Regions from separate parts of the Homo sapiens genome. Here region 1 is linked to region 2. The links come from fine-mapping of genetic effects on gene expression. Tissue or cell type: gastroesophageal junction. Region 2 holds a variant in brackets; the other region holds the start of a gene. All regions are shown on one strand. Distances are from middle to middle.

Region 1 (5,000 bases), 99 kb before region 2:
AATCCCAGCACTTTAAGTGGCGAAGACGGATGGATCGTTTGAGCCCAAGAGTTTGAGACCGGCCTGGGCAACAAGACGAAACCCACTCTCTACAAGAAATACAAAAATTAGCTGGACTTGGTGGCGGGTGCCTGTAATCCCAGCTACTCGGGAAGCTGAGGCAGGAGAATAATTTGAACCAGGGAGGCGGAAGTTGCAGTGAGCCGAGCGAGACTCCGTCTCAAAAAAAAAAAAAAATTGTTTAGTTGTATTGTAACAGGATTTTTGCTTAATTTTATTTGAATAGTAACTATTTGCCTTAGAACAATTTATTATAGATCGATTTCCAGCATAGGCTTATACATAAATGTTTTTGTCCTAAATCTTAAACATGTATGAAGATCAGTTTCCAAATAAGAGAAAATCTAACGCTGTTGTCAATGGCTTGTTAAACATTTCAAAATGGCATGCCATATCTACATATATCAAGTTATTCCGTACAGAGGACTTATGGATCATAACAGTCCCCTTCCCATCCCAACTTCTTATTGAAAAAAACACCCAGGTAGATTTACAGAGCACTCAAGGGGACACATTTTCTAATAGCCACAGTGGGAGACAAATGTCATAATTCTTGTCCAATAAGTTGCCTTGTGAGGTCATTCTAAGTTCTACGTGCCCTAAAACCATGTACTTACTGAAAAGCCTGACAAACTGTTATGAAACTGTGCAACTGTCAGAAGAAAAGTTATTCCACCTTAGAATGTGCTCTTGTATTTAAGACCCTTTTCAAGAAATGAGCATACAAAATGCACACTGACAAATTCAACTGATCAAAGACTCCACAGTGGAGCATCAAAGAAGGCAGGATGCTTTGTTCAGTCTTGAACGTGTTAACATAAGGTTTATTATGTGTTACAGAAAACCTTTCTGGAGGTTAAGAAAATCCATCAGCTATTCTAGATTTGTTAACAAGAAACAAAATTTTCAAAAATTATCGTTAAAAGGGATGTGTCTATAGGGAAAGACTGGTGTTCAAATTCTGAAGCAAATGCCCTGAGGCTCACAGATTTATTATAGCGAATCAGACAGGCGACAGTACAGGAGAAAAGTAGTGCATGTGTAGGGAGATGGACAACATTTGGGACCTCTCCTTGTCGAAGAGTCGTGACAGCAAAATCACTTCCTGAGGAAGGAGGAGCAAAAGGGAAGTTAAGAGGCCATCCTGACCAGGAAGTGACTCGCCCTAAACTAACCCCAATTATATCTACAAATGGGGGGATGGGGTGAGCCCCAACTGCTAAAGGCGGTAAAATAACTGCTTTTTGATATGTCGCAACATAACCACCACCCTCTCGCAAAATTACAGAAAAAAGTCCACAGTCACGATCCAATAAAGGAAACGTCTGTTCCCTTGCAGGGAGGCCCCTGGGCTGTGCCTCAGGCCTGAGAGAAAAGGAGAGTCGAGGAACGAGGAACTGGGGCCACCGTGAGGCAGAGGAAAGCCCCCTAAGAGGGAAGCGTCCCGACTGCGGAGAGCGTATGTCAGCATGGACCAAGAAGCTTCTTTTTCCTGGGGACACTGCTAGGCTCCCAACGCAGCCGGGCCGGGCCCCAGTTCCCTGTCGGGGGAGGAGGTAAGAGAGAGAGGCGGACCCCTTACCTTCTCCTCATCCGACACACGATCATCGAAGTCGGCCATCTTGGGCTGTTCTGGCCCAGCCCGGCTACGGGCGCGAGGCAGGCCGGGAAGAAAGCCGAGTGATGGAATCACCGCGGCGGCCGTCGGAAGGACCCGCCCGGAAACGCCGACCAAGAGGGCCCCATGTCAGTTATGCGCGGGAGTGACGTCTCCTAACGCCAGCGCCCGCGCCCGCGCCCCAGGAAGTAGGGTTTGCCTTAGGTGATTTGAAGTCTAATATCTTTCCCAATGAGTTACACTCATTTCCCATCCATCTAATGGGCGCTGGCAGCGTGTTTCGATTATTCTTGGCTTCTGGCCTCCATCCGACCAAATAGCTGTTGCTACTCCTACAAGTTTTTCTGGTGCCCGTTATCTCCACGACAGCCGAATCCAAAGCTTTAAGAGCTGCTCGGCAGCTGGAACGATCGGTGGCTTTTCCAACCCCGGGGGGGGGGCGGTGTGAAAGGTGACCCTCATTTCGTTTGGAAGCGGTAACACTTCGGGGTCACATCTCAGTCCAGTTCCTCCAGAATAGGCGCTGCTGTCCGCCCCTTCCCTGCCCCACGAAAGAACAGGTAGCCCCAATCTTGAGACACGCTCCTCCACCTTCGAAATCTTCTCGGTCCCGGTTCCCCAGGACTCAGCCTTCACAGAGGCCAACTTCAGGTCCGCCACTATCCCAGGATTCCCGACTCCCGGTTTCCTGTCCTTCTCCCCTCCCAGCTCCTGGCGCCTGCGATAGCGGCAAGATGGCGGACCGTGGCGGCGTGGGTGAAGCCGCAGCTGTTGGAGCGTCTCCTGCATCTGTCCCTGGCCTAAACCCGACGCTAGGCTGGAGGGAGCGACTGCGGGCCGGGCTGGCGGGGACTGGGGCCTCGTTGTGGTTCGTGGCGGGGCTGGGGCTGCTTTACGCCCTGAGGATCCCTTTGAGGCTGTGTGAGAATTTGGCAGCGGGTGAGAGGACCAGACCTCCTGGGGCAGGGCGGGGGGCCAGGAGAGATGTCGGGGGCAAGAGCCAAAGGGCAAGAGATTCTCGGTAGTCCTAGAGGGCCTCTGAGGAGTCGATGATGAGCGATCAAGTGAGTTCTTTTTCTTTTGGGCTGCAACCTTGCAGTTGATTGACAAGCCTGCTGCCGTTACCGGCTCCTCCGTAGAACTCTTAAGGTCCGCCCTCTCTCTTATGTCCTCGTTTTTCCATGGAAAAGCCACCTGACAAGCTATAAGCTTCAGGTATTAGGACAGAAGAGTGTCTCAGATTAGGATACGTAATTTATATTGGCTCCCCCACCTCTGGTAGGATCCCTTAAAAGTCACTACTTTGAGTCTCCCGCTGCCCAGCTGAAAGAACTCATATCCAGGCAACAAAGATGAGCACATCTGTAATTTAAAGATTTCAGAGAAAGAAAATGGCATGATTTTAATTGAGGATTCTCTTGTTTTAAAATAGTTCTGTTAAGAAATCGTTTTCGTGATAGTTTTGTCTGTTCTTTTAGGCTTATCTTGAGTAATAAAATAGTACAGGAAGTGAGAGCGCCACAAACAACAGTGGGTTTGCTAGTTCTTTCGACGTCTGTAGAACACTTGCTACGTATTCTGTGCTGACAATACGAACACATGTAAGAAGTGATGATCCTGATGGATTCTCATATACTGTACTATTCTTTAGCTGTAGACAGGATGAAGTGTTTAGGGCCCAGGTCCCCTTACCATGTGATTATATTTCACTCAAGATCTGAGCAGCAACCTCAGAACAAGATATAAGTATTTCCATTACATGATTCAGTATGGTGGTTGATTTTTCTGAAGCAAAAGGCAGCAAATGTCCCCTTTCCTGTTCAGAGATGACATGAAAGACTGTGAGTTAATGTTCGGAAATATTTTGGTTTTTTTGGAGGATAGGTATCAAGTTCAAATATAACTAGCACTCTAAAATAAGCTAAACTGAAGAGCTAATTTGGCATCTCTGTAACAGGTGAATGAAGTGCTTAACGGTGGTTTCTATGCACAGTGTTACTGATTGACTTGTCATTTATTTTTCTACGTTAACCATATGCAACATTTAGATGAGAATAGTTGATTACTATAGATTTTTCTTTTTTACGTTTCGTGTGTGTGTGTGTGTGTGTGTGTGTGTGTGTGTGTGTGAGAGAGAGAAAGACAGACAGAGTCTCCCTTTGTCACCCAGGCTGAAGTGTAGTGGCAAGATCACTGCAGCCTTGAACTCTTCTGCTTAAGCGATCCTCTGGCCTCAGCCTCCCAAGTAGCTGGGACTGCAGGCGTGCACCACCACGACTGGCTGAGTTTTAAATTTTGCGTAGAGACTGGGTCTATTTTATTTGCCCAGGCTGGTCTTGAACTTCTGGCTACCAGTGATCCTCCTGCCTTGGCCTCCCAAAACTCTGAGATTATGGGAGTGAGCCATCCTACCTGGCCAGATTTTTATTTTCTTTCTAAAACCCACAGTACTTATGAGATAATTATTTGAAGTGAAAAATCTGCTCCAGGATTTCAGTAACTCAGGGAGATTTCTGTTTGTTGCTTTTCTCTTTGAGCCATTTTGCCTCTCTAGCTGATATACCAAATACATATGCTGTTTCCTTCCCTCTAATTTGAGACAGTGGTTTTGTATCCTACCAAAATAAATATGGAGTAGTTTTGAACCTCCTTTGTAAAAGCATATTTATCTTTTTATTCTTACAGACTTGCAAAAGTTCTATCTAAATTATGACTTATAAGTGCTTTAGTTTTATTCTCCAAAGCAAGCTGAATTACCTCATTTTGATTTGTTGCAAATAGTGATAAGCCATTATGTATAATATATATACAAATTAAAACTTTTTCAAGTGAATTTCACACTAGATATTAATACTACTTAAGTCCCACCACTCATAAAGATACTTGCATATTTGTAACCTAAGTACTTTAAATTTGCATTTTTTAAAACTTTGATTCTTGTTCTTTTGACAGTGACTGTATTTTTAAATTCATTGACACCCAAATTCTATGTGGCACTTACAGGGACCTCTTCATTGATATCAGGACTAATATTTGTAAGTAGTTTCCATTTCCTTCCTTCATGTTTTGGTGTTTATCTAAAGATATTTTTTTTTTTTCTTTTTTGAGACAGAGTCTTGCTCTGTCGCCCAGGCTGGAGTGCAGTGGCATGATCTCGGCTCACTGCAACTTCCGCCTTCCAGGTTCCAGCAATTCTTCTGTCTCAGCCTCCCGAGTAGCTGGGATTACAGGTGCCGGCCACCATGCCCGGATAATTTTTGTATTTTTAGTAGAGATGGCATTTCACCATATTGGTCAGGCTGGTCTCCAACTCCTGACCTCA
Region 2 (5,000 bases):
TTTCCTCAAGATGTCAGCTGTTCTCTTCCCCTCCCATTTCCCCCTCCTTAATCCCACCATTGGCTCATCAGTTATCCAGTTGACTCCATTCTGAAGGAAGACATTCTCTTGGCCTGACTCACTCAGGCCCATTTCTCCACAGGCATCCCCTTACCGCAGACCACAAGGGCCCTGACTAGCTCATGTTTTGTGTTAATGGATGTGAAACCAGAGCAAATCCCCTCACCAAAAGAAAAACCACCCTAAACTCTCCCACACAGGTCTCAGCAGGTTACACAAATATTAGTCCTATCATCCAAATAAATCTGCCCCCGTGGCCCAGAGCTATGGCTCCCCCAACCTCCTGCTGCCTGTGCAGAGTGAAGCTGCTTCAAAAACATGAGGACCCCAAGGGATATTGGAGAGGAACTTTGGAAAGACAGGGGCCTGTATCCAGAATTCTTTATGCAGGCTCCTTAATCTACAGACTTTTGTTAATACTTTATAGTCCTAAAGAAGGACTGTTCCTAGAGAAGTCATGATGGGCTAGACCAGCCAGGGGCTTTGGTGAAGAGGATCTGCGGGCTGGAGTTTGGTGCATAATTAAAACTCAGCGTCTGACAGCTGGGCACAGTGGCTTGCGCTTGTACGCCCAGCACTTTGGAAGGCTGCAGTGGGAGGATTGCTTGAGACCAAGAATTCAAGACCAGCCTGGGCAACATAGTGAGCTCCATCTCTGAAAACTATGTTTAAATTAGCTGGGCATGATGGCATGGCCCTGTAGTCCCAGCTAATGGGGAGGCTGAGGTGGGAGGATTGCTTGAGCCTGGGAATTTGAGGCTGCAGTGAGCCATGATCATGCCAGTGCACTCCAGCCTGGGCAACAAAGCGAGACCCTATCTCTAAAAGAAATAAAAAGAAAGAAAAAAAAGAACAGGTACGTATCCTCATTTTACAGATGAGAAAATAGAAGCTCAGAAAATTTAGCTACCTTGCTCAAAATATCAAAGCAAATGGCACAGCTGTGATTTTTAACCCGGGTCTGTCATAACCGCAAATTTCTATACCACTCTGCTGCTTTAAGATATCAACAGGCAAAAGATAACCACTGTCCAACTCACATAAAAATAGGACATCAAGTTTTGGGGGACTTCATGTCCTACCTCCAGCTTACTAAGCCTGCTATCTCTGGAGATTCCACTACTGCAAACCTAGTTAGGCAATGGGTAATAGCATTACCCATTAAGCCAAATGTGGAGTGAACAATAATAATAATCACTAGGACTTGGAGAGTCACTAAATAAAGATTTGTTGAGTAAGTGGAGGAAGGCTGCCTTCTAAGCTGTGTATCACTTTGGCCCCAACCTGCAGTACTCCTTCCCACTGTAGCCACTGACTCCTGCTCCCAGCTTCAAAGGCTAGGATCCTCTCATAAAGAATTACCAAAGCCAGAGATCCCTACCTGCCTAATATATACTGATGCCTCATGTGGGCCCTTGAGATCAGACCTGCTTACCTGCTCTCCCACCATCCATGAGTTGCCTATCTTTCTTTTACTCCATGTCTCCCCAAACCTGGCAAACCTCCAGAATAGTGCATGGGAAGAGAAGAAAAGAAAAGAAAAAAAAAAAAAAAAAAAAGGCAACACAAGGCCTAGCCAGACTTACTACATTAATCTATCCTAGGAGTGTTCTAGGGTGTTTTAATGATTTGTTAAGCATGGGAACCACTGCATTCCACCTCAGTTTGAACAGGCAGCAAGTAAGCAAAAGAGGCAGTGCTGTCCAATACAGGTTGAGAATGGTAGAGAGAAAAAGAGAGAATGAATGTGTGTTTGTATTGTTATGATTCTTTTTCTTCTACAAAACACAGTTTATAAACATATGAGCATGTGAATGGAACCTTGTCCACTATGGCTAACATCTCAGGCTCTCAATAATAGAATGTGGTAGCCTAAGATTTTCTTTCGGGGTACCAGGTAGTTCTGCTCAAACGGACTTCAGAGAAGGGACATGCCATTCATCTTTGTCCCATCTAACTTTGGCCAGGTAGAAACAAAAAGAAGCTCTCTACAGGTACCCTTCCTCTTGCACACCAAGAAGTATCGGGAAGCTGGTGCAAAGGAAAGAAAAAAGGAGCCTCAACTACGTACTTTAGTGCAACTCATTTCACTCTAAAGACCCCCTATCTCTTCTACTCTCCCTTCAAATCTCCAGAGCGGGAAATCAGGGAGCTTGCTCAGTTTCTTATATCCCCTGACAACTCCTTCCCAGGGCTAAGGAACCAGCCAGGACACCATGGTCCCTATGGATTACTCTCTACATCCTTAAATAGAAGCGGTAGCAGCCCAGGGTGGAGGGTGGAGGAAGGTGTGCATGCAAGGATCTTGTGCTTTTGAGTTGAGAGGCTTGAATTGGAGGGATGAGTGAGGTATCTGTGTGTTCAGGT[T/C]TGGTCCAGCCACTCTGCCTTCTTGGGGGCTTTGCAAGTATGGACGTCCACAGTATTTCTGCATTCCTTGCACCGTACAGCACAGCACCAGTGGAATTTGCACTCACACTGGGTAACACGGGTGACTCGAGTTGTGTCGTACCCTCGGCCACAGCACATGATTTCACAACCGTCTGTTCCTTTTGATGTCTTGCTGCAGACACGGCCTGCAGTGCCTAGGGAACCTGGGTTGGGGAAGAGAGGGAGTGAGAACAAAGTTATCTCTTCAGCTGCCCTGGATACCCTTAACCACATTCTCAGAAGGAAGATAAAAAGAATCGCTTTTTTGGGCTGGGCACAGTGGCTCACTCATGCCTATCATCCCAGCATTTTGGAAGGCCAAGGCAGAAGGAATCCTTGAGTCCAGGAATTCAAGACCAGCCTGGGAAACATAGCAAGCCCTGTCTCTACAAAAACTTAAAAAATTAGCCAGGTGCCATGGGCATGAGCCTGTAGTCCTAGATACTCAGGAGGCTGAGGTGAAAGTAACACGAGGCTGGGAGGTCGAGGCTGCAGTGAGCCAAGATTGCACCACTGCACTCTAGCCTGGGTGACAGTGAAACTCTGTCTCCAAAAAAAAAAAAAAAAAAAAGAAGCATGGGCTCTGACATCATCTTGTCTGGATTCAAATCCCAGTTCTACCACTCTTAGTTGTGTGATTTAGTCAAAATGAAACATTAACTTAGTTTCTCATATGAAAATAAGCACAATAATAGATTGTTAGATATAATCTCTGTTCATCTGAAGAGGTGAACTGATTACCATGACTGGCTGGAGGCATATTCCTAAGGAATTCCTAAGTAATATCCCTTGCATTATTATTATTGCTATTATCCCTAAGCATTATCCCTTCCCCTTACAGTGGAAACTCTAGGATAGGGATCATGTTTTCCCCATGCATAGGGAATGCTTAGAACCTCATTCTGACTGATTTTAGCAAAAGAGATCCTGCCAACAGATCATAAAATCAATAGACTTTTGGATGAGTTGGGCCCATGAGAGCATCTACTCCAAGCTTTTCCATGGTTAATAAGAATCCAGAGATGGGAAACTGACTAGCCTAGGTTCAAAACGGAGAATAGATTAACTGATTTCTACAGAATTAGTCTCCAAATGTCACTGGGATACGGGAGGAAAATGCTAGAACTTCTATGTTTTTTATCTCATCAATTTAAAATATTTACGTTTTATAATATACATATTCATATAGTGGAACACAGGTATAAATAAATATACATATAATGGAGATATATGCTCAAATTGTTTTAATGATAGGAGTAAAGGATCCAGAATGTTAGGAGACCACTGGTCTGGAATGTGGACTGACTAGGTCTACTGTATATGTTAGTCTCCTAACTCCAAGGGCTGGGTCTTAAGTCCTCTTGGGCACCAAAAACCCCTTCTACACTGTGGAGCTGTGCTGTCCAGGGTAGCAGCCACTAGTCACATATGGTCTTTTACATCTAAATTAATGAAAATTAAACTAAAAAATTTAGCTCCTCAGTCACACTAGTTATATTCCAAGTACTCAGTAATCACATGTGGCTAGTTGCTACTGTATTGGACAACAGAGATAGGAAAACATTTCTATCATCACAGAAAGTTCAATTGGACTCTATTGCTTTGGAGGGAATTCCTGGCTCCATATTCTTTCTGGGATGACTTATATTCTTTGAATTCCAGGGCCCACTTTGGGTTTTAGGAGGCCTAATTTTATGCCTCTGAGAAAAACGAACACACATTTGACTTATCCTCCCTCCTAACTCCAAAGTTCCTTCCCTAAAGGTGTATTTTCAGTATGGTAGTATAGGTTTACACCTCAGATGTTATGGAATTATTTCTAGGTATCCAGAGAGTGACCCTCTGAATTAGACCAAGTGGGAGGAAAGTATACTTAGTGGCAGGAAATCACTAGGAAAATCAGAAGGGCTCCAAGTTTTTTTCTTCTAGCACCCTACAAAGTATACAGACTACTTTCTTCATTAATTGGGTAGAGCCCCACCCTTTTTCTGTGCCCAGTTTTACTCCAAGCCACTTGACTCTTCCAGGAATGACAGTGATGGGTGAAAACAAACAGTACCGAAGATAGCTGAGGTTTTTTGGCTCCACTTCACCCAAGTCCTGACGCTGAGCCTGTAGAAAAGAGCCTGGGAGCCCCACAGCAATAACCAGAGGAGAAGAGTTCTGCTGCATTGCATGTTCCTAGTTTAACCTATCTGAACCAGAAATGTGAGCCAGGATGGTAACTTTCATTCCCTTGGGGAAAAACCATATCAACTTCCAGCACCTCCAAGAATCCCACCACAAATACCTCGAACAGACTGAAAAACAACCATTTGCTGCTTTACCTGCCTTTGGTAGGGATCTCTTCTTCGTTTCTTTTTCAGCTGTTTCAGAATCTTCAATGGCAGCACACTGGATAAAGCCTTTCAAGGACATCTTTCTAGCTTTAATCTCCCTTAGAGAGAACCTTTACCCAGCAGATTGGTCTGTTCTCTGTCCCTGGGACAGATCATGTGCTTTCCCACCTACTA

Alleles and levels. Positions count from the first base shown, and alleles are read on the strand shown. Sizes are in standard deviations (SD) of each study's normalised expression.
For the expression in gastroesophageal junction of the gene that starts at base 2,385 in region 1, C is the high allele of the variant in region 2 and T is the other (moderate effect, 0.56 SD a copy in GTEx).

The links. PIP is the estimated chance that this variant, and not a neighbour inherited with it, causes the effect.
Region 1: ST7L starts here. The variant in region 2 is fine-mapped to the expression of ST7L in gastroesophageal junction (GTEx, PIP 0.95).

Annotation. Positions count from the first base shown.
Region 1 is chr1:112,616,526-112,621,525 of GRCh38, reverse strand. ST7L (suppression of tumorigenicity 7 like) reads left to right here and starts at 2,385. Exons shown (of 15, transcript NM_017744.5): 1 at 2,385-2,617; 2 at 4,631-4,713. The coding sequence starts at 2,413. It overlaps CAPZA1 (capping actin protein of muscle Z-line subunit alpha 1), which reads right to left and starts at 1,694. Exons shown (of 10, transcript NM_006135.3): 1 at 1,643-1,694. The coding sequence starts at 1,681. RefSeq lists enhancers at 1,412-1,861, 1,014-2,213, 2,322-2,421.
Region 2 is chr1:112,517,931-112,522,930 of GRCh38, reverse strand. It overlaps WNT2B (Wnt family member 2B), which reads right to left. Exons shown (of 5, transcript NM_024494.3): 5 at 1-2,651. The coding sequence ends at 2,422. It also overlaps a transcript of ST7L not described here. Among named protein-coding and RNA genes, the nearest start is that of WNT2B, 11 kb to the right of the region's middle. The variant T/C (reference allele first, on the strand shown) is at 2,428.